Regions from separate parts of the Homo sapiens genome. Here regions 1 and 2 are each linked to region 3. Evidence: fine-mapped expression QTL. A gene starts in region 3. Each other region holds a variant in brackets. All regions are shown on one strand. Distances are from middle to middle.

Region 1 (6,258 bases), 39 kb before region 3:
CCGTGTTAGCCAGGATGGTCTCGAGCTCCTGACCTTGTGATCTGCCCGCCTCAGCCTCCCAAAGTGCTGGGATTACAGGCGTGAGCCACCGCTCCCAACCTGAAACTATAATTTTCAAAGCACTTTACCTGCTTTGTTTTGTAACATCTCTCTAAAGTGAGCAGTTTATTATAATTCTGCAGTTAATGAAATGGCCACTGAAAGGTTAGGTGACTTGCCCAGGGTCATACAGATAGGTAGAAGCAAAGCCATAAAAATAACTCTGACTTCTGGTCTGGTACTCTTGCACTATGCCATTGTGTTTCTTATTCATTATATTCCTAGCATCTCTGTAATTTACAGCTGAGAAACCCCAGACATAGAGGTTATATGACTCACCTAAATCATATGGTGAATCACCAGTCAAGCTGTTCTTATAGGCAACAAAGCTGTTTCTAGCTAATTTTTGGCATCATTTAGCTAAATTGGCTGCCTCACTGTCTGATGTATATACGTCTAAATCTAAGCTCCTTTTTGGATGGCAAGACCTGGCTGGCCATATGATACCAAACCACAAAACCAAATCTATTCAACTTGAATTGAAAAATTAAAGTAATTCTTAAAAAAAAAATAGTTTAACTACATTTCTGATCTCAGGAATTTGGAAATGGGAAAGATAACTTTTCACTACACTGCCAAGGCAAACCTTGGAAGTCAGGAACCATGTCTCCCTAGTCCCTATGTTATCATGACTAGCACACTATCTAGTCCATTAGTAGGCACTGAGTTAATTTTTGCTCAGTACCTAAATATATGAGTGAAGGAATGAATGAACAAATGAATAAATAAATGGAGTGGGAAGACCTCCCCATCCAAAAACTGTGCATTGACAAGTACAATACAATTTGGATCAATACTGATGTTTTTACAAATTTTTCTTTTCTTTTCTTTTCTTTTTTCTTTGAGACAGAGTTTTGCTCTTGTTGCCCAGGCTGGAGTGCAATGGCGTGTTCTTGGCTCACCGCAACCTCTGTCTCCTGGGTTCAAGTGATACTCCTGCCTCAGCCTCGCCGGCTAATTTTTGTATTTTTAGTAGAAACGGGGTTTCTCCATGTTGGTCAGGCTGGTCTCGAACTCCTGACGTCAGGTTATCCACCCGCCTCAGCCTCCCAAAGTGCTAGGATTACAGGCGTGAGCCACTGCGTCCGGCCTCCTTTCTTTTTTTCTTTTTTTTTTTTGAGACAGAGTCTTGCTCTGTTGCCCAGGCTAGAGTGCAGTGGTACAATTCCAGCTCACTGCAACCTCTGTCTCCCAGGCTCAAGGGAAACTCCCACTTCAGCCTCCTGAGTAGCTGGGACTACAGGTGTGCCAGCATGCCTGCCTAATTTTTGTATTTCTTTTTCTTTTTTTTTGAGACAGAGTCTCACTCTGTCCCCAGGCTAGAGTGCAGTGGCTGATCTCTGCTCACTGCAACCTCTGCCGCCCGGGTTCAAGTGATTCTCCTGCCTCAGCCTCCCGAGTAGCTGGAACTACAGGCGAGCACCACCATGCCCAGCTAATTTTTGTATTTTTAGTAGAGACGGGGTTTCACCATGTTGGCCAGGATGGTCTCGATCTCTTGACCTCGTGATCCGCCCGCCTTGGTCTCCCAAAGTGCTGAGATTACAGGCGTAAGCCACCGCGCCTGGCCCTTTTTTTTATTTTTTGAGATGGAGTTTTACTCTGTCGCCCAGGCTGGAGTGCAGTGGGCGATCTCGGCTCGCTGCAACCTCCGCCTCCCGGATTCAAGCGATTCTCCTGCCTCAGCCTCTCCGGTAGCTGGGATTACAGGCGTGTGCTACCACGCCCAGCAAACTTTTGTATTTTTAGTAAAGACAGGGTTTCTCCATGTTGGTCAGGCCAGTCTCCAACTCCTGACCTTGTGATCCACCTGCCTTGGCCTCCCAAAGTGCTGGGATTACAGGCATGAGCCACCATGCCCGGCCTGAAATATATATTTATTTTATTTTATTTTATTTTATTTTATTTTATTTTATTTTATTTTATTTTACTTTTTTGAGATGGAGTCTCACTCTGTCGCCCAGGCTGGAGTGCAGTGGCATGATCTTGGGTCACTGCAAACTCTGCCTCCCGGGTTCAAGCCATTCTCCTGCCCCAGCCTCCCAAGTAGCCGGGACTACAGGCACCCGCCACCATGTTCGGCTGATTTTTTTTGTATTTTTAGTAGAGACGAGGTTTCACCGTGTTAGCCAGGATGGTCTTGTTCTCCTGACCTCGTGATCCGCCTGCCTCGGCCTCCCAAAGTGCTGGGATTACAGGCGTGAGCCACCGCGCCCGGCCACCTGAAATATATATTTAAATTCAGCCACCTTGATTAATGAGTTTAATAGAACCCATTTCACTTCACTGTTACCCTCACCACCGTCTCTCAATCCTATTAAATCAAACTAACACTGTGTGTTAAGTGTTTGATGTGTACCCAGAAATTCTGGGAAGAAGGATATAAGAAAACAAGACTCAAACTCAGCCCTCCTGGGGTTTATAGTCTCGTTGGCAGAAAGAGACTTACATACATCATTCACAAGCTATTCCCTGATTCCAAATACAATACAGGGGCATTGATAACTGTTGTGTTGTTTAACCCAAAAAAATCAAAAGAACAAAAGAGTATAAGTACAGTGTGATACAGCG[A/C]TAGATTGTGTGTAATAGACTATCATTACAACAGGAACACAGAAGGACAAATGAGGTGTGGCCCAATAATTGGAGTAGGTTTTCTGAAAGGAGTGTCACAAAAGCTAAAAGATCTGAGATTGACCAGGTGCAGTGGCTCACGTCTATAATCCCAGCACTTTGGGAGGCCGAGGTGGGTGGATCACCTGAGGTCTGGAGTTTAAGACCAGCCTGACCAGTATGGTGAAACCCCATCTCTACTAAAAATACAAAAATTAGCTGGGCATGGTGGTGCGCACCTGTGTTCCCAGCTACTAGGGAGGCTGAGACAGGAGAACTGCTTGAGCCCAGGAGGTGGAGGTTGCAGTGGGCAACCAGTGCACTCCAGCCTGGGTGACAGAGTGAGACTCTGTCTCACAAAAAAAAAAAAAAAAAAAAAAGATCTGAGGTTGTTCCAGATCCTAAAGCTGTATGATCGTATATGATACATTTGTCATTTTGTTTTGTTTTGTTTTCTGTGCAAGGTGAATGATGGAGGACAAAAGGACCCACTTGGTCTATTATGTTATAAACTTATATGTGTGTGCTGGCATATGTCTTGCATATTTTAATATGTTTCCATGTACATTTTATTGAATAGTAACTCTTCAAACAGATTACAGCTTAAAATGAATCTAGCGTCCCTTGCTTCCAAACAAACAAACAAAAATTAGAAGCCAAAATTTACTCAAAGCACTGCTCAAGCAGTCTGTCTTCATTTGGAAATGGTCAATTAACTCAAATGACAAATCAATCTGGAATAGGAGCAACTCCACAGATGATTCATGGTGACTGAAGGCGCCTGGTAACCTTTCTGTCTCCATTTCTTCATCTGTCTGTAGGGAATAATGGTCTTACAGAGGTGTTACAAAAAACAATTAAAGTTGGTAATGTGCTTTGAGAGCCATGGATGAACCAAGCTTTCAAAGTGCATAATTACATACTGCAGCGAGTCTCTCATACTTGCATCCTCTACTCAACTCTTTAATAGGTATTTGAAATGACACAACTCAGGTAGGTTTTCCATGTTCTCAAGTTACTACTACATTATTTATCCACTGATACCAGTTGTCTTTAAAATAGAATGCAACCCACAGTAGTAGTAAGGACCATTAATCCTTTGGACTTTAGGATACTTAAAGTCTTTCTTCTGTTTTTTTGTTTTTTTTTTTTTGAGACGGAGTCTAGCTCTGTCGCCCAGGCTGGAGTGCAGTGGCGCGATCTCGGCTCACTGCAAGCTCCGCCTCCCGGGTTCACACCATTCTCCTGCCTCAGCCTCCCGAGTAGCTGGGATTACAAGCGCCTGCCACCATGCCCAGCTAATTTTTGTATTTTTAGTAGAGACACGGTCTCGTCATGTTGGCCAGGCTGGTCTTGAACTCCTGACCTCGGGTGATCCACCCGCCTTGGCCTCCCAAAGTGCTGGGATTACAGGCGTCAGCCACCACACCCGGCCCAAGTCTTTCTTCTTGGGGAGTATAGTTTTCCAGATCATTTTCTACCTTCATTTTTCAATTTTTCCACTTCAGTTGGCTCACTCATCTCCTCTCTGACAACAGTCCGTGAAGATTGTAAAAGATCAGCTCAGTGGCTTCACTGAAACCTAATAGGAGGCCCCTCTTTGCTTTGCTGAATACTTGGTAATTTCTTGTTTGCTGTTCTTATTCCTCTTCTTTCCCTCCACCTGCTCCATATTTTAATTGGCCTGTTGGAAACACACAGCAGGTGAAATTCTTTAGATGTCTCCACAGCAGGAGAAGGAAAAAGATGTTGAAATCAGAATGTTGAATATTTAAGTCGGGAAGGAGAAGGGCTGGGATTGGCCAAGCAGAAAACAAGAGGGGAGAAACCAGCAAGATGTAGTGACAACATCCCAGTCACTCTGGGTAGTAAGGGGAAACCTAGAACAACAAAGCCAGTTGAGAACACATGAAAAAAGAACTACTGACCCATAACCTGGGCAACCTTCCCACACACTCCTTTTGCCATTCTGCCATATGAGAGAAGGAAAGGAGAGAGTGTAGTATCCCTCTCCATTACAGGAAAGCAGTGTCAAGCTTATATCTTCTAATGAACTTGGATAAACTTGGATCCTACTTAGTGGCAACTTTATGTTCAAAGGAAAGCACATTTTCTCTGATAGCCCCAAAGAATCTAAATATTTGGTTCCAAGATGGAATATGAAATGGAATATGAGACTATGAGTATAAATCAAATATTTTTCTTTTTATCTTTTTTTTTGGGGGGGGCAGGAGGGACAGGGTCTTCTTCTGTCACCCAGGCTGGAGTACAGTGGCACGATCATAGCTCACAGCAGCCTCAACCTCCTGGGCTCAAGTCATCCTCCCACCTCACCCTCCCGAGTAGCTAGGACCACAGGCTGTGCCACCACACTCAGCTAATTTTAAAAAATTTTTTTGTAGAGATGGGGTCTCCCTATGTTGTCCAGGCTGGTCTTGAACTCCTGGACTTAATTGGATCTTCCTGCCTCAGCCTCTCAAAGTACTGGGACTACAGGCATGAGCCACCACGCCCAGCCCCATTTTCGTATGTTAGGTTTGAATTCTGTCCTTTATCAATGTGTGATGATTTTGATACATGAATTTCAAGCAAAAACTTTTCTTTCCTCCAGCCCCAAAGTTCTGTCTGAACTATATAGGGTGTGGGGAGGCTGTTTTCCTTCATAGAAACTACTACTTGAAGCAGTGACCATTGCTAAGGGGATTCAGCTGCCATTACTAAAGTAGAAATTTACTAAAGTACCCAGAAAGTGAGTCAATTTTACTCTGCTGGAAGGAAATATTTTCCTTTAAATGGAGTAAGAAAACACAAGAGGGTTCCACCCTTCTTGAAATACTGTAGCACTGCATATGTTTCTCACTCTGAGTGCAGAAAACTTTTGAAAAGTGCCTATTTATATAGCATTTTTTGAAATAACAAAATTTAAGAAGTGGAGGGCCAGAGTAAGTGGTTGCCATGGATTGGGGAAGGGAGGGTGGCGGTAGATGGGTGTGGTTATAAAAGGGCAACAGGAAGAATCTGTGATGCTGTAATTGTTCCGTATCCTGACTGTGGTGGTGGGTACATGAATCTACACAGTTGATAAAATGGTATATAAGCTGGGTGGAGTGCTGCCCACCTGTAGTCCCAGCTACTTGGGAGGGTGAGGTGGGAGGATTGATTGAGTCAAGGAGTTCAAGGCTAATGAGCCAGAGGAAAGATTGGGTGGAAGGAAATGAAGAAAGTATTATTATTATTATTATTATTATTATTATTATTATTATTAGAGACAGAGTCTCACTCTGTCACCCAGGCTGGAGTGCAGTGGCATGATCTCAGCTCATTGCAACATCTACCTCCTGGGTTGAAGCAATTCTTATGCCTCAGTCTCCCAAGTAGTTAAGATTACAGGTGTGTGCCACCATACCCAGCTAATTTTTGTATTATTATTATTATTATTATTATGATTTTTGAGGCAGAGTTTCACTCTTGTTGCCCAGGTTGGAGTGCTATGGCGTGATCTTGGCTCACTGCAACCTCCGCCTCTTGAGTTCAAGCAATTCTCCTGCC
Region 2 (6,258 bases), 48 kb after region 3:
CTTAGGGTCATTAACAAGATTGCTTGCCTTCTCCTATAGTATAAAGAAAATAACTTCAGAAAAACAGAATTAGTGTAGCAGACAACAGAAGTATTGTATGAAGTTTAATTTTCTTTCCTTCTTTTTTTTAAAAATAGAGACATAGTCTTGCTCTGTCACCTAGGCTGCAGTGCAGTGACCTAATCACAGCTCACTGCAGCCTCGTACTCCTGGGCTCAAGCGATCTCTCTCTCTCTCTCTCTTTCTTCCCTCCCCCTCCACCCTTTCCCCCTCTCCCTTCCCCGCTTTCCTCCCTCTCCCTCCCTCTCCTTTTTTGTAGAGAACAGGTCTCGCTGTGTTGACCAGGCTGGTCTCAAACCCCTGGCCTCAAGCGATCCCCCCACCTTGGCCTCCCAAAGTGCTGGGATTACAAGTGTGAGCCATCCCATCCTGCTTTAAATTTTCTTCTTTTTGTCCTTAAAATTCTTCCCACTAAGGATAAGCAAAGTGTTGTGTTCTGACCTCACTTTATATGAATACTTTCTCTGTATGTCTGTGTTATTGATTTGATGTACATGATTAGGTTTTTTTTTCCAATTTGTCTTTAATTTCAGAAATTTCTGTTTCTATGACAGTGACATAACCTAACAAAATTCAGTTTCATTTGAATGAGTATGACATTTTCCTTATTCAAAAGTTAAAATTATATGCAAAGGTATATATAGAAGTCTTCCACAGATTCCTGTCTCGTATATTTCTTTTATCATCCCTTCCTCCTTACAACTTGGAAAAAGTGTTTCTTGTTAATCCTCTCAGTATTTTTTTGTGCAAACAAATACATCCATTCATATACATGTTCTTACTTTGTGAAAGGCATCACATTTTACATTATATTACATAATTTGATGTAAACTTAAATATTAAGTAGCAGACCTAACAGAAGACTTTCAGAGTTGTGTTAATGCTGTTTTTTATGTTGTGAGAGTTGAATCTGCTACACTGACTTCCACATTATTTTGTGATCTATGAGTTATGATCAACATGAGATAGTAGGTTCACTAGTAACTAAGTTCAAGTATGTAACACTGGAAAAACTGCTTGTTGCTTTATGACTTTGGGCAGAAAAACAGACAGGTGAAATGCAGTTGAATACTTTGTAAATTATGGTTAGCCAAAGTAGGTGACATAGGACTAACCTGTGAAAGGGGACATAATGAAGTAAAACATTCAAGTAAAATGACATGATAATGGCATATTTGGCAAACATCTTCAGAATAGATTATATGTAGAAGTTGGAGGAGAAAAGTTTTTCCCTTTCCTAGTTGCAATTTATTATTATTATTAATTTTCTTTCTTTTTTTTTTTTTTTGAGATGGAGTTTCACTCTTGTTGCCCAGGCTAGAGTGCAATGGTGCGATCTCGGCTCACTGCAACCTCCGCTTCCCAGGTTCAAGCGATTCTCCTGCCTCAGCCTCCTGAGTTGCTGGGATTACAGGCATGCGCCACCACGCCTGGCTAATTTTTGTATTTTAGTAGAGACAGGGTTTCACCATGTTGGTCAGGCTGGTCTCAAACTCCCGACCTCAGGTGATCCGCCTGCCTCAGCCTCCCAAAGTGCTGGGATTACAGGCGTGAGCCACCGTGCCCAGCCCTATTATTAATTTTTTAGAGACAGTCTCGCTGTGTTGCCCAGGCTAGTTTCAAACGCTTGGGCTCAAGTAATCCTCCTGCCTCAGTCTCCTAAAGTGCTGGATTAGGGGCATGAGCCACCATGCCCAGCTGCTAGTTGCAATTAATTTATTAATCAGGATAGCTAAGCACAGTCATTTATGGTGGGTGGAGGGAGACAGAGGGAGAGGGAGATTGTGTTTCATGATGAAAAGATCATTTTGAGTATTTTTGCCAAAATAATAATCATAGAATAAGATGGAGATCCTTGCATATGAATAATCTTCTCAATCATGTTGTTCTCAGTGTTGCTACGTTATTTGGCAGATAACTTTTTGCCAGGAGGATAATTATAACACATTTTTTTTTGAAAGAGTTTTCTAATTGAGAAGTTTCTTTCCTGACTAATGACTTAACAAATAAACCATTGTTACAACAAACTGTGTCATAACAGCAAAGTTGCAATAACTATGAATCTAAGATAGTTTCAAGTTCTCTGTAGTAGAGTGTACTTTCAAGTCTATCCAAAACAAAAACGTTAGCTCTAATATATATTTGTTTTTAATAATATATTGCTCTTAATATTAAATATATGTTGAGTCATTATTTCGCCTCCTTTCTTAGCATCTCGATAGTTCTTTTGGGGATATTGATTTTGCAGGATGCTTTAATGTATTTGTTGTTGTTTAGAAATAAGGCAGTCTTTTGGTCATAGTTCTAGGGAAGGTTTAAAAACTTCAGTCATCTTAGAGCTCAGATTGAGTTGGTCTGTTTGGATGGCATGCTAAAGTATATGAAATTTGCTTGGTTACAGGGCAAAATGTGAGAGTCCCCTAATGATATCTGGTACCAGTAATCTAACCAGGTAGGTAGGTAGGTAGGTAGGTAGGTAGGTAGGTAGGTAG[GTAGGTAGGTAGA/G]TAGATAGATAGATAGATAGATAGATAGATATCTCTTCTTACTGGATCTTTTTCATGCTGTATGCTTCCTCTCGAGTTTAATGGAATCAAGTGTTGCATTTTAGGGTAATTCCTAAATCTTAGTATCATCACATGAGGCCATTTAGTATGCTAACCGTTGGATGCAGTTAGTTTGCGTTGCTGCTGGAAGATTGTTGCTGCTTTTTACCCTGGCTTTAAGTTGTGTGCTCTTGTGGGTAACTATGGGACTTGACTTGTACTGTCATATTTTGAACAAGGGAAATAAATGTTTAACATTTGTTAAATAGGTTTCAATGACAGTTTTCATACTCTATGGTGAGCAACTTAAATGTAAGGTTAGCTCTGGTTGTTCAAGTGTTTCCATGTTTTTTTGGAAAAGTTAGATTATTTCTTTTGATATTTTGCTGTAAATTTAACATAAGCTTTGGTGCATTTTACCTTATTAAACGGGAGACAAAAAGTCTCAAAATATTCTGAGTGTAGATATCAATGATTAGTGTCTTAATTTACAAAATGACATCTCAATAGATCAGTAGTTATATGGTATGTGGTATGCTTGTTTAGTAGAAAGGTGTTCTTAAATGATCGATGATTTAAGTAAAATCCTGTGAGTTTATACCATATGAGAGAAGCTTGCTTGATAAAAGAGGTTTCAAATTTAATTTTTTATTGTGGTAAACAACAACATTTACCATTTAACCATTTTTTAAGTGTATAATTGAGTAACGTTAAATATATCCAACTGCTGTGAAACAGATCTACAGAAATTTTTCATCTTGAAAGCCAGAAACTCTATACCTATTAAACAACAACTCCCGTTTTTCTCTTCCCCTAGTCCCTGGTAACCATTCTACTTTCTGTTTCTATGAATTTGACTACTTCAGATACCTCATAAGTTGAATCATATGGTATTTGTCTTTTTTGTGACTAGCTTATTTCAGTTAGCATAATGCCCTTAGGGTCCATCCGTGTTGTAATGTAGTACAGATGTTCCTTCCTTTTAAAAGGTGTGTAACTCATTTTATGTATCTACTACATTTTGTTTATCCATATCTGTTCTATTCCACTGGTCTATTTGTCTTTATGCCAGTACCTCACAGTTTTGATTACTGTAGCTTTGTACAGTAAGTTCTCACTTAGTGCCGTTCTTAGGTTCTTGGAAACTTGGGCTTTAAGCAAAGCGGTGTACAGCAGATCTTTGAACAATATCAATTTGTTCAGTGTTGTTTTGTTATAATGTTGATGAGGAAAAAAATTGGTTTCATTCATTATACGTCATTTTGCTTAACATTGGAGTTTCCAAGAACCTGTTGGTGATATTGAGGACTTTCTCTAAAATGCTTTGAAATTAGGAAGTGTGAGTCCTCCAACTTTGTTCTTTTCTTCCTAAAATTGTTTGGGCTTTTTGGGGTCCCTTGAGATTCTATATGAATTTTCAGCTTAATTTTTTTCATTTTTGCAAAAAGTGCTATTGGAATTTTGATAGGGATTGTGTTGAATCTGTAGATTTCTTTGGGTAGTATGGACTTCATGATAATATTAAGTCTTCGAATTCATGAACACAGGATGCCTTTCTATTTGTGTCATCTTTCATTTCAGCAGTATTTTGTAGTTTTCAGTGTACAAGTCTTCTACGTGCTTGGTTAGGTTTAGTATTTTACAGTTTTTGATGCTGTTGTAAATGGAATTGTTTTCTTAATTTCCTTTTTGGATTGTTAGTATATACAAGAATTTTGTGTGTTGATTTAATATCCTGCGACTTTATTGAATTTGTGGTTATTAGTTCTAAGAGTTTTTATGTGTGTGTAAACTTTGGGATTTTCTACATATAAGATTGTGTCATCTGGGAACAGAGATAATTTTACTTCTTTCTTTCTTTCTAACTTGGATGCCTTTTATTTGTTACTTTTCCTGCCTAATTGCTTTGGCTAGGCCTTCCAATACTATGTTGAATAGACACGTAGTGGGAGTGGGCATCCTTGCCTTGTTCTGTATGTTAGAGTAAAAACTTTCAGTCTTTTACCCTTGAGTATAATATTAGCTATGAGTTTTTGACTTTTACTATGTAGAGATAGCGTCTTAGTCCATTTTCTGTTCCTTACAACAGAATATCTGAAATTAGGTACTTTATAAAGAAAAAGAATTTATTTCTTACAGTTAAGGAGGCTGAGAAGTCCAAGTTTTGAGGGTCCACATCTGATGAGAGTCTTCTTGCTAGTGGGAACTCTGCACAGTTCCTAGGTGTTGCAAGGCATCACATGGCAATGGGACTGAGGGTGCTTGCTCAGGTCTCTTTCTCTTCTAAAGCCACCTGTCCCACTCTCATAACTATTAAATCATTAATCCAGTAATCCATGAATGGATTAACCTATTCATGATGGCAGAGCCCTCCTTACCCAATCTCCTATTAAAGACCCCACTTCTCAGTACTGCCACATTGGGGATTAAATTTCCACGAGTTTTTGAGGGGACAAATATTCAAACCATAGCAGGTGATTTTTTTCTAGTTTTAACTTGAGTGTTTTTTATAGTGAAAGGGTGTTGAATCTTGTCAAATGCTTTTCCTGCATCAACTGAGATGATCATGTGGTTTTTGTCCTTCATTCTGTTGATGTCCTGTGTTACATTGATTGATTTTTGTATGTTGAAACAGTCTTGCATTTCAGCAATAAATCTCACTTGGTCATGGTGTATAATATTTTAAATGTTTTAAATGATGAATTCTGGTTTGCTAGTATTTTGTTAGGAATTTTCGCATCAATATTCATCAGGGATATTGGTCTGTAGTTTTCTTATAGTGTCTTTTTCTGGCTTGAATTTAATTTTTAAAATGTAATTTGCATGCCTTACTCTTTGTCTAGGAATGTTTAAGATTAGAGAGAATTAAAAGAATTTTAGAGTACCACATATGTGTCTCCTGTTGTTACCACTGTGTGGAATTACCAAGTGAAGAATCAAACTCTTAGATCTGAAATACGAATTGGGAAGTACTATAGTGTGTTGACAAACTGAATTATGAAAGCATATTTGATTTCTGAACTTGAATATGCATATAATTCAAGCCTATGAATTGTGTACTGTGGTTGTTAGCTAAAAGGTTAGTGGGTAATATCAAGTGGCTGGTAATGCTAAATATTTTAATAAGGTCAGCTAATCAGAAGTGAAAGGAACAAAAAAATTGGACATGTGACATATATGTGTTCTTATATAGTCATGCTAAAATGAAAAAAGAGGCATTACATATTAATAGTCACCACATTTTTAAATTTTGGGTTAAAATTTTTCATTCTCTATAAAGTGGTTTATTTTTCACATTGGTTTTATTGTTTTTAATCTACTGAATTGTTTTTTGGCTACAGTTCTATCTTCATTATCATGCAAATTATTAATAAAAATTCAGTAATTCATTGAGATACTTTTTACTACCTTGAGTAAATAAATGTGAAAACTTGTGATGTAATCTATTGAGAGTATGTGAAATGAAAATTTAGATTTCCCCCAACATCAAGCAGGATTATCCTGTGTTCATCTACTCTTCTATGAAATCTGCCTTTTTTTGAAATTTGCCAGTGAGCCAGTGATGCCCAGTGTGAAATGGTTTAGATGGCAATAATATATTGTGCTTATATCATGCTGTATACCATTTAACCCTTCTTGTAAATTTGATTTTTGG
Region 3 (6,258 bases):
GAAATCATTTAATATCAATTGAGATTAAATTGGCACAATTGAACTAAATTAATGTAAAAATGACTTGGTACACGGCCCAATTTTTCTATTACTTCAAGTGGAATTTTGCATTAACTTATATAACTCTGTAAATTTTCCACTACTCTCTATTTAATGTTCTAGCTGCATCATTCTGTAACTTGAATCTATTAAAAACTGTATAGCATTCTACCAAAGATGGTCTATAAAAGAAATGGAAATTTATTTTGAATAGTATTCCACTCTCCAGAGCTTTAGAGGTAAGTAAAAATGTCTCAGATTTTACTTCTTGTTATTGATATTCAGATGTTTCTGTTTAACTTTTATTGTCCAGTTGATTAAATATACTATAACTCTTTTTGTAAAGTTGCAGAAAAAACAATAAGCACAGAGGATGGGAGAGAAACTAACAAGAGATATGGAAGGAATATAATTTAAGGACTGAAAATAATCGTTATATTACATTAGGAATGTTTCAGAAGTGATATCGGGGTGAAAGCTTCATGATTTACACGGGGCTCACCCTATTTCTCAGTTGGAAAATTTGTTTTGTTATTAATACGTTTTATTTCTTTTCTTCTAATTGAAATGTAATTTAATATTTAAGAAATATTTTAACCAAAATTTCAAAAATGGAACAGAAACGAAGACTTCTTAAGCAAACACTATTTTATGAATCTACGAACTTCTATAACAGCAATGGAGACACTGCAATAGGTCACTTCTTCCTGTCCAAGGAAAAAGCGGCGCTTTGGAGGGGATAGGCCCTCCTCGAGTTTTTCTCCCCCGAGTAAAGAGCTCTTGGCGGTCAAAGGTCCAATACACTGGATTCGAAACAAACAAAAAAAAAGGGTGACAAAGATTTTAGTTAACAGGGGTCGGAGGAGCAGAAAGGGTCTTTTCGCACTTCAAACATCTTGGGGGAGGGATGGGAAGGCAGGATGCGAAGTAACCTAAATTCCCAACCATTTCGCGTGGTTGCACCCGCCCAGGAAGGCAGTGGATGCGCGGGGGAGGCGGGGTAGGTCCCCCTCCACTCCTTTTGCCCAAATTTCGATTTCCCTCCACTTCGCTCGGTCCTATCTCTTCCCCCGCCCCGAGAGTGGCGAACAAATTGGTCGAGCGCCCGGCCTAGCCTAGTAGTCCAGTTCTTTAGGACTCCTAGAACCTGGAGATACAGACCACGTTTTCTCGGAGACGGGACCAGTGGGCTGTAAAGCAAAACAATTTTTCTTTCTTTTCCAGGGCTAGGTCTTACTGGTAGAGAATCAGCTCGCTCTCTCTCCACACCCGAAGCAAAAAGCAAAACAAAACCAACCCGTATTCCGCCCCCGATCTAGCCCAAGTAGCTCCATTAAACCATTTAGGATCAGGTGCCAGAGTTAAGCGACTTGGGTTCTTTTGGTGGGAAGGGGTAGGGACAAGGGGGCATCGAAGGTACGGGAACTAGGGCCACAGGCCCCTCACAGGGGTGTGTCAGAAGAGGGGACTTCGAAGGGTGATGCCCGACTGGGCTGCCACCTTAGCGCCTCGCGAGGGGCGGAGGGGCCCGGGGAACGAGTCCCGGAGCGAACCCAGCCAGCCTCTGGATTCCCACGGCCCAGGGCTCCGCCGGACATTCCTACCGCCCTCCCCTCGACACCCCACTAAAGACAGAAGAACCGCGGCTCGATCGGGTCCGCGGCGGAAGCGCGGCCAAACGAATGAGTAAGTCAGGCGCGGGCACGGCACCTTGTTTACCCCACTCGGCGGCGCGCCCCTGCGGGCGCCTGGTTTGCGGGCGGCGTCGGAGACGCTGAACCCGGGAGTCAGTCGGCCACGATTGGTCGGTGACTGGGAGGAGGACGCTGGGTGGGAGGGCTGGGAGCCAGGCGTTGCAGTGGCAACTCTCTGCCGCTAGATGCCGCTCCCTCCCAACGGGAGCCGGGCGCGGGTTCGTGGCCGACAGATGGCGCCTGCGCGTTCCATTCGCCTCCAAGTCGCCGAAGAGCGAACACCCCAAACAATCCCGAAGCGCCACCAAAAAAAAAAAAAAAAAAAAAAAAAAAAAAAAAAAAAAAAAGAAAAAAAACCCCGCCGGATCCGACCGCCACTTTCAAAACCCCCCACCGCTCTAGAACCGCGGGAGCTTCCGTCCCTGAGTAGAATTCGAGGGTGTAAAGAAGAGGAAGGGGAAAAATATCTTGTACCAGCCCAGGGGTGAAGAAGCCCCCGGCCTGAGAAAGAAGGAGGAGTGGGGGAGGCGAACAGTCTCGTTGCTGCCTCTGTGTACGCTGAGGGGGGAGGTAAGTTATAAAATGGCGGAGGCGAAGCTTCTAGAAGTTTGGAGGGGCACCCGGAGGGCGCTTGGCCCACCGTGAGGTGTGTATGATTGAAACAGGGCGAGAGAGAGGAGTTGGGAGGGAAAGAGGTTGGGCACTCTGTTGCCATTGAATTTCCCCTCTGCTTTCTTCGCCCCCATGGGGGGCAGCCATGGAACGGGGGGCAGAGTCCAGGCGGGAGGATCTTTCTCGCCCCCGCGGCGCCCCCCGCCCTCCTTTCTCCCTTCTCCCCCCAAGTCGCTACCCCAACACTTCCAAGGAACTTCCAGCCCCCCTTCCTCCCTACCTCCTACTCCTAGAGTGGCTTTCTACCGCAGGGCTCTTCTTTTCGACTACCCTCGCTGAAGATTTTCTCTTCCTTCCCTCGCCCAACTCTCCCTCGGGGCCTCTACGGAGACCCCCCCCCCCCATGGGTGGCCCAAAATGGAGAACGCGGAGCAGCGCAAGATGGAGGCTCCGCTTCTCTGTGTAGCAGTAGATTTAGGTTCCTTTTCTCCGGCAGGCTCCTAAGCCTAGGAGAGCCCGAACTGGAGGTGGGGTGGGGTGCGAGCCGTAGTCGGGGGAGGAAAGCCGGGAGGCTGTGGTTGGGGTGGGGGAGAGCGCGGTGTCGCGGTGAGGGGAAGGCAGAGAGCAAAATGGTGGTGCTGGGAACCTAGGGGGGAGGGGAGAAAGGAGGCTCAGTTGTGTATATTTGGGCCTCGGACCGAGGGAGGCGAGGGAAAATCTACTCTGATCACACCCCTCCCTCGTGCCCCCTCCCTTCTCCCTTCCCCTCCTCCCTTCCCTCCCTCCCCCCTCCCTCCCTCTCTTCCTCCCTTCCTAGAGAGGGAACAACATTCATGTGACGGGCCCCTCTGCTTCTCCCCCGCCCCATCATCTCCAGCGCGTGGTGGGGGAACTGCTGGGGAAGGCGATTGGCATCGATCTCTCCATCCCTTCCGAGGCCCGACTTCGGTCAGTTTTCTTCGGGCAACAATTTTCTAAATTGGCTGGGGTCTGGCGGTGTTGGCCCCCGCGCGCAGACCTTGCCCCGAAGGGGGCCCTGCCTGCCTGGCATGGGCGGAGGGGGGAAGGGCGGGAGTGGAAGGCTGTTTGTTGGGGGGTTTTGGCGCCACTTTTGTTTTAGTTTTAGTGCTGCTTTTCATTCCCACCCCCACCCGCACTGTCTTTCTCAAGGCACGAACTGAGCTGATCCTTGCCCCAGGTAGGCAGCCTGTGCGTTTTCACTCCACACTTTTATTCTTGCTCGGGGTCGACTTTCTTTTTTCTTCTCCCCTGGATCCGGAGATCTGCGGACGGCGATTTTGGGACGAAAAGGGTCGGATGGGCCGTGGGAGAGAGAAGGTGTGGGAAACAGCATCAAGTAGTTCCGCAAAACTTTGAGCCCCGTTCCCATTTTCTTTTGGCCTAGAATTGTGAACGTATTGTTGATTTCGGCCTTTTTTTCCCCCCGTCGCGAGAATGTCTTGTTTTGCCTTTAGTTTTTTATAAACCGCTGTACTTTCGACATTTAGTTTCCGCTCCCCCTTGGTGCATATGTCATTTTATTTTTAATCCTTAACTGTAATGGGTTATCGTGTGATTTTCGTGCTTCAGTGCTCGGCTTTAATTTTTAATATTGTATTAGTAGTTTCATCCGGTTTGTGAGACTTTCTCTTCCGTGGCCTAGAATGTTTTTTATGTTGTTGCCTACCACCCCTCTTCCCTCTCCCTCCTTCTTTCTCTTGGATGTAGTTTTTAAATTGAGGGCCATGGTGTTGGATTAAATGGTAATTTACAGTTTACATGATATATCTATTGGAAACTTTTGATCTGTAAGGTTAGATTTAAAGTAAACGAGGCGCTTGTGTTGGTTTGCAATGGTTCCTTAAAATGCGCGGGCCACCCCCTTCTCCCACCATAAAGCCCCATCTTCCCTTCACACTGGAGTGTAAATTCCATACCCCTTTTCTCCCACGGACCGCCGTATTTCGCAGCAGCCACACCCTGTATTTGTCTCTGTGGATTGGACTCATTATCAGCTTAATTTAGTGACTCTTAAACCACCATGATGGGACTTGCTTAAGCACGAAGCTTCTTTTCCTGTTTAGTCCTAGTGGTTAGTGTCGAAAGAGGAATCATCGAGGTTTCTTGATGAAACCTAGTGCGGTCCAACCTCTGCCTTTTTTTCTGTTGTCTTTTTTCCTACTCCGGGCTGTTGGCGGTGTCAGCACCGCTGCTGGGGGCGGGGGTGGAGGGGAGAAAGAGTCGGGTTACCGAAGTGCGTCATTCCTGGCTCTAGCAGGGCCTGCTCGGGAGCTGCTGGTGTTTGTTACTGTCCTCGCAGCACTTTTCTGCCAACCTTCTCTCTCTGCGTATTGGTTAGGAGCAAAAGCAGGAGGCGGTCTCCTAATTCTGTCTGTAGCCTAGCGCGTTGCGTTTAAGGGTATATCTGAACTTATTTTGTTAAAAAAAAGGCTCTGGGAAGTGGATGCATTTGTTTAATGACATATAATTCAGGTAGTTTAGGCTTGCTCTCATATACTTTCCGATGAACAGTGGGGTTAATTTTCAACATTTTCAACCACTTAACGTTAAAATGCCTGGTTTTCTTTCTACATTGATATCAATCTATAATTAGGGATCAGAAGGACCAGTTTAAGGTATATAAGTGTTCAGCAGTTTTTCAAGTGGTTGAATTGCAGTTTTATGACACATTATGTTAAATAGTCGATTTTTTTTTTTCATTTTGAACTAAGGTGCCACGTTAAGTAAGTTAATTGCAGATGTTTAAGTTCGTTTTCATCACATTTCCCTATTTGTCTTTTTAGGTATAATTTTAAATATGCCCTTTGGGTTTATGGACTTCATTAAAATTCTTAAAGATGGTTATATCTTTGTGTTTAACTGAATTCTTAAATTTATCACCTACCAAAGAATTGTGTAAGGCGTAAGGCGGCTGTATAGTTACATTGTTGGATTTTGACTTAACATGCTAGTTTTTGATACTTTTGCTATCTTTGGGTAGAAGTGTACTTAGAGAACATAGTATCTTCCTCTTAATTCTTTTTGAAGATAATAATGAGAGGAGGGAGTGGGTAGGAGGTAGGTGTGAAGCAGAAGTGGCCTTGAGTTGATTATTGTAGCTGGATGAATACAGAAGCGCTCATTGTTACTATTATTCTCTCTACTTTTGTGCGTGCTGTTAAACATTTCCATAGTTTAAGATAAACTTTTTTTGCAGTAGAATTTCCAGATTGTCTTACAGTCTTGGGGGTAATGACTTAAGTTTATATTTACATGTCAAAATTACTTGCATAGGAAATTTAGCCTTGTGTAAGTGATTACACAATGCTTGGCAAAACTTTCAAAAAAAAAAAAACGTTTAAACGGGAACTAGTATAAAACAGGCAACATAAATACTTATAAATTGGTTGAACTTTAAATGTTTATAACTTAGCCTGAATGTGCTCTACTTTTAGTTTCCTTTTTAATTCTTTGAAAACAGGAAAATTCCATTTGCAATTTTTGTAAATTCTGCTTAGTGTCTATTTCATCAAGTTGGAGTTACAGTGAGTCAGTATGAAAGGGATTTACTATTAATAGGAGGGGCTTTGGCAGTTGCAGTAAGTGACAGTGGAAGGGATTGAGGTACCATAGGGAGCATTCCTGGTAGAAAGATCTAGGTAGCTGAATTCAGTTTCAGAATTTGGTGTTTAATGACTAGGTAGAGAAGTGGGTTGGAAAAGAAATGTACTTATTAGCTATTCCTTCCCACTGTGAAGTAACTATAGTATTCTAAGGTGTATCAGAGACTGGCAGAGAGGGTGGAGTGGGTTTTTTTTTTTTTAACTGATAAGAAAATGAGTGTTTACATTTAAAATGGTTTAAATCACCTCATGCCCCAAGGATCTGGTGCTATAACTAGTTAGAAGTTGAT

Alleles and levels. Positions count from the first base shown, and alleles are read on the strand shown. Sizes are in standard deviations (SD) of each study's normalised expression.
In carriers of allele A in region 1, the expression in gastroesophageal junction of the gene that starts at base 2,778 in region 3 tends to be lower than with C alone (small effect, 0.27 SD a copy in GTEx).
For the expression in subcutaneous fat of the gene that starts at base 2,778 in region 3, GTAGGTAGGTAGA is the low allele of the variant in region 2 and G is the other (moderate effect, 0.57 SD a copy in FUSION).

The links. PIP is the estimated chance that this variant, and not a neighbour inherited with it, causes the effect. A credible set is the group of variants that fine-mapping cannot tell apart.
Region 1: its variant is the best candidate, but not a certain one, in a credible set for the expression of STAG2-AS1 in gastroesophageal junction (GTEx, PIP 0.69).
Region 2: its variant is the best candidate, but not a certain one, in a credible set for the expression of STAG2-AS1 in subcutaneous fat (FUSION, PIP 0.78).

The regions. Positions count from the first base shown.
Region 1 is chrX:123,919,880-123,926,137 of GRCh38, forward strand. No RefSeq gene overlaps it. Among named protein-coding and RNA genes, the nearest start is that of STAG2-AS1, 38 kb to the right of the region's middle. RefSeq lists an enhancer at 4,190-4,691. The variant A/C (reference allele first, on the strand shown) is at 2,671.
Region 2 is chrX:124,006,883-124,013,140 of GRCh38, forward strand. The region is part of intron 1 of STAG2 (STAG2 cohesin complex component); the gene reads left to right. Among named protein-coding and RNA genes, the nearest start is that of STAG2, 48 kb to the left of the region's middle. The variant GTAGGTAGGTAGA/G (reference allele first, on the strand shown) is at 2,553.
Region 3 is chrX:123,958,564-123,964,821 of GRCh38, forward strand. It overlaps STAG2-AS1 (STAG2 antisense RNA 1), which reads right to left and starts at 2,778. Exons shown (of 2, transcript NR_130770.1): 1 at 2,626-2,778; 2 at 670-842. It overlaps STAG2 (STAG2 cohesin complex component), which reads left to right and starts at 3,143. Exons shown (of 35, transcript NM_001042750.2): 1 at 3,143-3,293. RefSeq lists enhancers at 1,109-2,024, 1,553-1,742, 2,723-2,772, 4,201-4,300, 4,391-4,650 and a silencer at 3,093-3,232.